2 separate regions of the Homo sapiens genome follow, and region 1 is linked to region 2. Evidence: fine-mapped expression QTL. A gene starts in region 2. The other region holds a variant in brackets. All regions are shown on one strand. Distances are between the middles of the regions. Region 1 overlaps TACR1 (tachykinin receptor 1). Region 2 holds the start of PCGF1 (polycomb group ring finger 1).

Region 1 (5,382 bases), 680 kb before region 2:
AAAATCAACGCTCATCTCACTGCCTAAGCACCACTATTGTCAATTCTTAGGAATTATTTCATGCCAAGACTTTCTTTCTTTTTTTTTTTTTTTTTTTTTGAGACAGAGTCTTGCTGTGTTGCCCAGGGTGGAGTAAAATGGCACGATCTCAGCTCACTGCAACTTCCGCCTCCCAGGTTCAAGCATTTCTCCTGCCTCAGCCTCCCGAGTAGCTGGGATTACAGGCGCGAGCCACCAAACCCAGCTAATTTTTGTATTTTTAGTAGAGACGGAGTTTCACCATGTTAGCCAGGATGATGTTGATCTCTTGACCTCGTGATCCGCCCGCCTCAGCCTCCCAAAGTGCTGGGATTACAGGCGTGAGCCACAGTGCCTGGCCCAAGACTTTCTTTCTATGCATAGAATCTTCATAATTATAGTCCTATAGCATATACAATTTTATTTTTCTTTTACATAATAAAGATATATTTTATGTAATAAACTTTATTCTATAAGATCATGCCAAGTGGTTACAAAGTATCGTAATTTAAATAATCCCTCATGCTTAAACCCTGGGGGGTGTTTTGAGATTTTGCTACAACATATAATTTGTCATCAATGTGTTTTAGCAAAACTAGCGCACATGGATGATTATTAGGATAAATTCTTAGAAGAAAAGTTGTTTGTTCAGAGTGTTAGCCATCTTAAGCCTTTTGCTTCATTCTGTTAAGCCACTCTTCAGAAAGCTTTAGTAATTTGCAGTGTGAAACAGAATATATAGATCCAACATATTGGAGTGTTCCTTTATCCATATTCCTAACAATTTTACAAAAATCTTTTCCAATTTAAAAGATTAAAATGTTAGTTATGTTTGCACTTCTTACTAGTGAGTATATTTTAATATATTTGTTATTCCTTTGTATTTGTGAATTAATAGAGCTTTAAATTTAAATCTTAATTTTTAAATTCCATATTGAATTGCAGAAACTGTAGGTTGAGGCTATATTAAAGGCTATAACCTTTTGATGGTCATGTGATATAAAAATTTTTTATATTTCAGGTTAAAATGTTCATTTCTTTTTCAGTGATTATTTTATATTATTTTATGTTGTTATATCTATCTGCCTTTTCTTTTGTGCTTTCTCTTTGTTATTATGCATAAAAAGACCTTCCTCAACTCAAAAGTAGGCAAATATGCATAAATAATTTCATTTACTGTACTTTTATAATTTAGTTGTTGTTTAATATTCCACTCCAATAATTTAATATAATTAGATTACCTCTTTTTTAAATGCCATATAAGTTTATCCTATTGTTCAAACACCATTTATTGATTGATCATTTCCCTACAGATTAGAAATATTACTTTTGTCCTACAATGAATTTTATTTATATTTAGGCTTTCTCTGATCTATCTACTTTGTTGACTATTTCTTTAATCGTATCAACATGCATATATGCTTCCTGATAAATTCTGGATTCATAATCTAAAACACCCTTATGGATAAGTCCTGTTGAAATTTTTACTGGAAATACAATAGATGCATTAAATTTAGAAATTAGCTTTGGAAAGAATTATTAGCATATCAAGTTTTTTTTCAGTGTATGAACATGATGCATAGTCTATGTAGTCGAGCTTTTAATATGATTTCTTTACAGTTTTTTACATTTTTCTTCTATAGATCCCACACATTTTTTAAAAAGTTTTATTATATATTGCATAATACATAATATAGAACCTAATATATATCATATTACCACATATGTTGTATATAAATTATATATATAAATTTAACTTTTTTGGTTGCTAATGAAAATACAATATTTCCCCTTGGTTTTTTTTCTAATGGATTATTATTGGTGTACTAGAAGGCTATTTATTTTTTAATAGTTATTTTGAAACCAGCTATCTTAATAAGTCCTGTAATTCAGTTGAAGTTCTAATGATTTTTCTGGTTTTTTTTCTCAGGTTTTCCTCAGATAATGGCATAGTCTATAAATCATCATCAGCTTTAATCTTACATCTAGTGTCTGTGTCCTTTACTTTTTTTATTAGATCTTTTAGAACAAGTTAATTAAAACTCATGATCATAAGCACCTTTTTTTTTAACCTGTGATGGTAATGTTTCTCTTAATATAATTGTTAAATATGTTGCCCATTGGCTTAAGACAGACATTTTAAAATTACATCATTTAATTTCTAGTTTACTAAGAGATTTAATCAAATCTAGATACTTAATTTGCCAATTGTGTTTTTGCCATCTATTAATACATTTTTTCATATTGCCTACTTTCCTAATCTTCAACTGTTCTAGAACTCCTAGAATAAACAATACCTGTTCTTGTGCTTTGTCCTTTTAGCACACTATTAGATTTACTTACTAACATTTCATTTACGTTTTTGCATCCTTGCTATAAAATACAACTTACATAAGCTTTAATTTTTTAATGCTGTCTTTTCAAGTTTAGGTTTAGGGCCATGAATAAGTGAAATAACTGTTTTCTAAAATTCTGTTGGCTGAAATAAGCGAACTTCAGTGAGAAGCTTTTCTTCCAACCAGTTTCCTAAATAATATAAATTCCTTATTTTTCTCTGTTTACTCATCATGCAGTAGCACAGGACTTTTGCTGAGCCTTTCAGGTGAAGCAAAAGAATAAAAGTAATAACACAATACGTTATTGACACAGAAAACTAATGGGAATGGAGTCTTCACAGTAGTTTGAGGATTTTACTCCCTCAGCTTAAGGGCTCTACCAGAAAATGATATAAAC[G/A]CAGAGAAAGAAACCCAGCCGTGTACTCCTTCCTGGGGTGATCAAGGCAAAAGCCAGCTTCGGACAGAGCAGGGGAGGGACTACTGCAGCGGTTCTCAGTGAGCAGAACTTCGGTACTCCATCTTTTTCCTGCCGTAGTACACGGTTTCCCCAGGAGACACATCCTCATGGGCACAGATGTTGACAAAACCCAGGGAAACGTAACAGATAAGCACAGTATAGCAATGCAGACTTTTTCACTTGGCTGTGCATTTTGTAAGACATTTGACAAGACTGTGATTAATATAGCTGTTGATTTAAGGATCTCAATAATTAACCTTTTTAGAGAAAAAACATAGATAAACGCTGCAATTTTTAAAAATTAAACTTTTCTTTTAAAACACTAAGTTTCATTTTTTCGAGGCCCTCCCTTCCCATAAACTATACAGTAAGAAAAGCAAGTAGATACTATTGAAGAAGAAATAGAAATAAATCTTACTTTGTGCCTCTAATGTATTCTTATTGCATGTAAGTTATTGGCTTCTAACGTTATTTTTAATACAAGTCAAGTTTGGCACATTTTCTTTTTATCATGACTTTGCTTTATTGTTATCTTCTACTGACATTGAACACACTCATGCTTGTAAATGTAGATCTAAATATTTATAGAGCTCCTACATCATATATACCTGAGATTCAGGGATACAATGGCAAGAATCAAACATGATTTCTGCCCTTCAGGAGCTTACAGTCAATTGGGAGAAATAAGTATTAATAAGACATTAATCCAATGATTATTCACATCATTGTATAATTTTAAACTGTCTTAAGAGCTAGTAAAGAACATTAATGCTATGAGAGTACAGAAATACATCGCTTAACAATGGGGATACATTCTGAGAAATGCGTCATTGGGTGATTTTGTCATTGTGCAAACATCATGAACAATGTGTAAGAACTTACACAAATCTAGATGGTATAGCCTACGATACACTTGGGCTATATATAGAATACCCTGTTACTCCTTGACTACAAACCTGTACAGCATGTAATTGTACTAAATACTGTAGGCAATTTGGAACACAATGGTAAGTTTTTGTCTATCCAAACATACCAACCCATAGAAAAGGTAATGTGTTGTGCTACGACATCACTAGGCAATAACAATCTTTCAGCTCCATTATAAACTCATGGAAGCACCATCATATACTTAGTCTGTTATTGACTGAAACATTGTTTTGTGGCGCATGGCTGTATATGAAAATTCACACTGTCAGTATGGCTCAGGGCTGAGATCTAAAGGAAGAGCGGGAGTTCAGGGTGAGAGTGTCAGGGGTGGGTATTGTGGCAGATACTATAGATTGACCACATACAAGCCATTTACAGTTGCCTGCCCTTTGCAGTCCCCTACTAGTGATGCTGTCCACATCCCAGCCTTCCTTGCAGGGAGCACAGGCCATGAGAGAAATTTTGGGGCAATGGGGGTACAGGAGAAGTCCCTAGGTTGAGCGTCTCTTCCTGAATAAAAAGGCAACAGCCACAAGGAGAAATGCTTTTTCACTCTTAGCTTTCCCCTTTCTTGCTGTCTGAAACACAGGCGAGAGGCCTGGAGAAGAACACCAGGTTTCATCTATGAGAACAAGCCCTGTCTAATCCTTAGCCTAAGCTAAGGGTTGTGGATCAGAAAGTTAGAAAGTACCTGGAATTCCCTTGAGTACATCACTGATCCACAGACCAGCTCTAAACTGACTAGCTCTGGGCTTCTTGTTAAGAAAAGCAATGAAACCGCTAGTTCTTTGAGCGCTTGATAAACAGACGTTCTGTTATTTGTAACCAAATATAGTCTTAGCTAATTAAGAGGAGTGAGGTCAGGTTGGGAGGAAAGAATTGTAAACAAGTTAACTGCATTTATGAAAACCCTGGGCAGGAGGAAGCATGACTCCTTGGAGGATCAAATACTTTTTATTTATACTTTCCATCTCTTACATTAAAAATTTATCCATGAATAAAACTAAAACAAAAAGGGAAGAAACATAAAATCACAACTTATAAGCACTATGGTAATTCATTACCACCCCAACTATTAATGGGGCCTCAGTAACAAACTCACTGCAGGCTGGAGTTCAACTAGATAGTCTGAGCATTATTGGAATTTGACACTATGAATTCATCGTTTATTTCATACTCAGAAGAGCAAATGAATGAGTGACATGACCATAGGGATAATGTTAAATCCACTATGGTTTTTAAAAATAATTCTAATATCTCATTTTATATGGGGAAAGATAAATTAATTTTAACATCAGACAGTTAAGAACCCGTGGTCTGGAGTATGTTTTCTTTGTCATTTTTTTTTCCCCTTAATGAACCTGCTCAGATTATATTTCCTTTTTTTTCTTTTTAAATTATTTTCTAGATGTTTTTAAAGGAAATTTTGGAAAGAAGCTTTTCAAAATGATCCCTCAATTTTTAAATTCATATTTGTTTTTGAGGCTAATAAAATTAAGAGGAGTGGGAGAATGTTGAAGAGTGGGGAAGAAACAATTGGTAATGATTCCAAATAGGAAGTTATTATGATATGGAGGCAAAATATTATTCAAAACATAGGACTGGGGAAACAAGATTCCAGAGATTTGAGGGTGGAATTGGAAG
Region 2 (5,382 bases):
TCTGACAAGCTCCCCCTGCTTCCCTGCAGCCACCTTAAGTCCAGCAGGCTGGAGGACATGCTTCCCTCCAAAGCTCTTCATTCACCCTCTTACCCAGGCCTACCAAGCCAGGTTCCTGGCTACTTCCTCCTATTATACTTTCCTTTGAACTGTTTCAGATACAGCCCTTCCTTTCCATTGCCATTGCTAAAACCCTAATCGAGGCTGTCATCACCACCACTTGGATTCATTCATGTATTCATCCAGAAAAGTTTTATTGAACACCAACTATGCACCTGGCACTGGAGCTATATCTGTGAACACAACAGAGGAAAAAAAATCCTTGCCACTGAGAAGCTTATAGTCTAGTGGAAAAGGCAGATGAAAAACTAGGAAATATGTTTTCTAGAAAATATTTTCTGAAAATAACTAGAAAATATAATATATATTAGAAATGTATATTAAATAATAATAAATGATAGAATGCTAATAAGTGCTAACCAGAAAAAAAAGAGCAAGGAAGTGAAAGGGTGGGTGAGTTGTTATTCATCTAGAGTGATTACAGCAGCCTCATGAGTAAAGACCTGAAAGAAGGAGGGAGCCATTTTGGATACCTAAGCATTTCAAGTTGGGGACACAGTGGAAGGATATCCTGGTGTATCTGAAGAGACTATGCAGGCCCTTGCACACCACTCTGAGACTTTGACTTTCATTCTGATTGAAAAGGGAAGCTCTCAACAGGTTTTAAACGTAAAAAAGGAACAACCTAATTTTTCAACTTTATTTTTAATAGCTTTCTTGAAGTATAATGGACATATAAACTGCAAATATTTGAAGTGTACAATTTGATAAGTTTTGACATATGTATATACCCATGATACCATCATCACCATAAAAATAATAAACATATCCACATCTCAAAAATTGTCCTTTGTCCTTTGTGTTTCATGTTTTATCAGAATCACTAGCTCTGAGAAACAGCACTCAACTGTGATGTTGAGAACAGGCGAAGGGGGACTCAAGGAAAACAGTCAAGAGGCCACTACAGAGGACAGATGATAGTGGCTCGGACCAGGGAAGTAGGTAAACAGGGGCTGTAACGAATAATTGATTAATCACTAATCTCATAACTTCTTGCTGCATATTCACTTCAATTCACTCTGAAGAGAAATGAACAAAAATGTCGCTTTCACAGGATAACCTCCCTTCAAAAAAGTCCGCTAGCTCCCAATTGCCCTCAGGCTAAAAATCGCAACTCTTTATGGCCCTGCTTTTTCTATTACCACTCTCAAATCTACATCTTGACCTTCCTGTCCTCTGGTCATTCCCCTCCACGTCCTTTCTATTTCACCACACTTCCACCCCCTCCCCCAAGTCTAAATTGTGCCCAAAGTCCCACTTTCTCCAGAAAGCCTTTTTTGAGGTCTCCATTGGAATCTCTCCCTTCTCGTATCTCCAGTTGCATTTGATGTTAATACCTCATAGCAAATTTATCCCTTTTTAAGTACCCAGAGCCGGCGGTGTAGAGCTCTCGAGCGAGCACCCCGCGTAGTCCCCAAGTGCGGGACTGGGCCTATGCTACTACAGGCGCTCGCTGCCTAAGCCTGTCTGTGTGTGGCAGTGTCCTAGTCGTCCTCCCCTCCTCCTTCGGCATCTGCTCTGCATTAGTCTGTCCCAGGCCTCCGCAGGCGCCGATGATTAAATCATCATCATTAACCAGGGCCTGCCCCCCCCATCCCCGGCAGCAGGGGGGAGAATGGGGGAATAAGATCACTACCAAGTCCCTGGGGGTCTCTCACTCCCCATCCCCCGGCACCCTCTCCGAGACTCTGCAAAGCCCAAGAAACTCCCTCCGTGAAGCCGGGAGAAGACCCGCCATCTGGACGAAGCTCCGCTACGCGGACGCCGACAGGGCGGCATTACGAGGAGAGGACCCAGGAGGGGCTTCTTCAGCAGGGTCGTCGTCACAGAAGACCGACGACCCTGAGCGGGTAGCGGGCACAGACTGCCAGGCCTTTGGGGGTAGGAGGGGGCAGTCTTTCGCAGGCTCCGAAAGTTAGTCTTGAGGTCGCGTAGGGCCTATTATGATGATTTCTACAGGAGGTTGAAGAGATAAGACCCTTCCCTGTGCTCCCCCCCCCCCACTCCTTAATTACGGATTGAGCAGGGGAGGGGCCGGTGGGGCTCAGGTGAGCACACAGGGAGAAAGGGACGTGGGCGGGGCCTTACAGAGGGTGAGCGAATCCGAAAAGACCTAGAACCTCGTTGCTGGGAGACAAGTCCCGCCCTGCAGGCGGCACCGGAAGTGGCCGGCTGGGATCAGCCTTTAAGATGGCGTCTCCTCAGGGGGGCCAGATTGCGATCGCGATGAGGCTTCGGAACCAGCTCCAGTCAGTGTACAAGATGGACCCGCTACGGAACGAGGTGCAAGGGCGGCAGGGTTACTGCTGTGGTCGGCCAGCGGTGCGAATTGGGGCGGGCTAAAGGACGGGCGGTGGCTGGCCGGGCGCCCAGTGCGCCTGCGCAGAGACAGAGTGCCCAGTGCGCCTGCGTGGTTGCGATCGGGTTGCCAAACTCCGGTTAGGACGCCTGCGCGTTGTGTCGCCGACGTTGTGTAGTCTCCCCTGGGAAAGGAGGGTCAGGCGAGTCCACGTGAGGGAAGCCCCCGCTGTGCGCGGAGCCCTCTGCTGGGCGGAGGGGGAGTGCCAGCCCCCAGGAGCTAATCCCCGGCTGATGGCGCAGGGCGCGGGGCTTGGCCGTCTAGTGTGATGAAGGAGGCGACCCCCAAGGTGGGAAGGCGCACGGGTTGGGGTTTGAGGGTGGATGATTGGTGACGGAGGGTGTATCTTCAGGAGGAGGTTCGAGTGAAGATCAAAGACTTGAATGAACACATTGTTTGCTGCCTATGCGCCGGCTACTTCGTGGATGCCACCACCATCACAGAGTGTCTTCATACTTGTGAGTGCCTTGGAGACTGCCTAGTTCTTCCAGTCCCTAGTCTTCACCAAGCTGACTGCCAGCTTCTGTGCGGCCTGCCTCACGCATCCAGGCACCCCACCCAGCCCATGAATCCAGTTTCCAGAGGGCCTGAGAATCTGCTTTTCTTTTCCTGCAGTCTGCAAGAGTTGTATTGTGAAGTACCTCCAAACTAGCAAGTACTGCCCCATGTGCAACATTAAGATCCACGAGACACAGCCACTGCTCAACCTCAAACTGGACCGGGTCATGCAGGACATCGTGTATAAGCTGGTGCCTGGCTTGCAAGACAGTGAGTCACCAACCTGACTTTGAGGGGCCTCTTGAGGACTAATTGCTGAGTGGCAGCTTGAGGTGACGGGTTTGGTAGGACTCACGTAGGCAGAAGGCCAAAGATGAGGGAAGGACAAAAAGTGAGGAAGGGCTAATACTTTATTCTTTTTTTTCTTTTTTTGAGACGGAGTCTTGCCCAGGCTGGAGTGCAGTGGCGCAATCTCAGCTCACTGCAAGCTCCACCTCCTGGATTCATGCCATTCTCCTGCCTCAGCCTCCTGAGTAGCTGGGACTACAGGCGCCCACCACCATGCCCAGCTAATTTTTTATATTTTTTAGTAGAGACGGGGTTTCACCATGTTAGCCAGGATGGCCTCAATCTCCTGACTTCATGATCTGCCCACCTCTGCCTCCCAAAGTGCTGGGATTACAGGCGTGAGCCACCGCGCCCGGCCCCGAAGGGCTAATACTTTATTCTCATACTTCACCTTCTTCTAGGTGAAGAGAAACGGATTCGGGAATTCTACCAGTCCCGAGGTTTGGACCGGGTCACCCAGCCCACTGGGGAAGGTATGTCCTTGGCCGCGGGACAGTAAAGACCCCAGAGCATTCTTCTTGCCCAGTTTTGCTCTCTGGGGAAAGAGGAGTATGGAATGTGTGCCACCAGCCACCTCACTACCCTATCTTTCTCAGAGCCAGCACTGAGCAACCTCGGCCTCCCCTTCAGCAGCTTTGACCACTCTAAAGCCCACTACTATCGCTATGATGAGCAGTTGAACCTGTGCCTGGAGCGGCTGAGGTGAGGAGAAGGTCAGGGGTTGCAGGAGGTGACAGTGCCAATGACCCAGAGCCAGGGAGGGTCTAGGGGAGAGGCTGAGCAGTGAGTGAGTGCCTATCCCCTTGAAGAGAGTATATCATGGCTCTGGGTGGGGAAGAGGAGGAAAGATAGGATTCCCTAACCTGTGTCTATTTCCCCCCAGTTCTGGCAAAGACAAGAATAAAAGCGTCCTGCAGGTGAGAAGGGCTGAGGGGAGGGCCTCTCTAAGGAGACTCACCTCCCATGGTCCTTCCCTCACACACCTTGCCCTCTTCCCTCCCCTCCCTGCTCCCAGAACAAGTATGTCCGATGTTCTGTTAGAGCTGAGGTACGCCATCTCCGGAGGGTCCTGTGTCACCGCTTGATGCTAAACCCTCAGCATGTGAGTAGTCCCACAGTAGGTTTCTTGAGGGGGAGAAGGGGCTAAGAAAGGAGGGACAGAGTCTAGGGTGGACCAGGGTAGTTTTTGACCTGCCAGAAAGTTCCTAAAATTATGCCCCCATCTCCCTCCTAGGTGCAGCTCCTTTTTGACAATGAAGTTCTCCCTGATCACATGACAATGAAGCAGATATGGCTCTCCCGCTGGTTCGGCAAGGTAAGCCAGGCCACCCTCCCTGGGATCACACCCCCTTCAGACTCCCCCCAACCATCCTACAGTCCTCAGGGGAAGGGTGGGCTGAGGGGCCCTTTGAATAATATAAGAACATTCCCCACTGACTACTACTTCCTCATTCTCTCCTTAGCCATCCCCTTTGCTTTTACAATACAGTGTGAAAGAGAAGAGGAGGTAGGGGCCAAGCCCCCACCCCATCCCACTCCCCTTCCCTCCCCAGATATTTATGTGAAATGAACTGCAGCTTTATTTTTTGAAATAAAAACTTTTAAAAAGCACCTCTCTTCTGCCTTATTCTTCCTGCCTCACACTCATGCTGTGTCCTGCCTTCTTCAAAAATCCTCTGAGTTTCATTGTGAAGAAGGGCCTGTCCTCTATGGCCATGGGCCCTCAATGTCTTGCCAAAGGAGAAGGGTAGAGGATCCCTATATGTGTGAAACCAGGCCTCCCACACCACTCTTTTTGGTGATGGGAAGGTTTCCTGGAGGGGAGCTCTCAGCTGTCTTTGTATGCTGCAGCATACAGTGCGGGTGCGGGCCTCTTAGGAGGTTTCCTAATTCAGCGGTGGTGAGAAGGCTAGAGTTGGACAGTGGCTGCTGCAGGATTGAACAAGTGTGATTTTTTAAAGAAAAATCCAAAGAATTGCATTATAGTTTTATAACTTGGGGGATGGGGACAAAAAGGAGGGAGAAGTCTAAAAAACAAATGGAGTGGGGCCACAGGA

Evidence for each region. PIP is the estimated chance that this variant, and not a neighbour inherited with it, causes the effect. A credible set is the group of variants that fine-mapping cannot tell apart.
Region 1: its variant is the best candidate, but not a certain one, in a credible set for the expression of PCGF1 in T cells (TOPMed, PIP 0.88).

What each region holds. Positions count from the first base shown.
Region 1 is chr2:75,181,089-75,186,470 of GRCh38, reverse strand. The region is part of intron 1 of TACR1 (tachykinin receptor 1); the gene reads left to right. The region is part of intron 2 of TACR1-AS1 (TACR1 antisense RNA 1); the gene reads right to left. Among named protein-coding and RNA genes, the nearest start is that of TACR1, 16 kb to the left of the region's middle. The variant G/A (reference allele first, on the strand shown) is at 2,752.
Region 2 is chr2:74,504,597-74,509,978 of GRCh38, reverse strand. PCGF1 (polycomb group ring finger 1) reads left to right here and starts at 2,284. Exons shown (of 9, transcript NM_032673.3): 1 at 2,284-2,403; 2 at 2,832-2,937; 3 at 3,095-3,247; 4 at 3,727-3,798; 5 at 3,922-4,027; 6 at 4,209-4,242; 7 at 4,341-4,427; 8 at 4,560-4,640; 9 at 4,789-4,936. The coding sequence starts at 2,311. The coding sequence ends at 4,836. It overlaps LBX2-AS1 (LBX2 antisense RNA 1), which reads right to left. Exons shown (of 2, transcript NR_152616.1): 2 at 4,914-5,382. RefSeq lists enhancers at 1,475-1,534, 2,275-2,454, 2,091-3,021.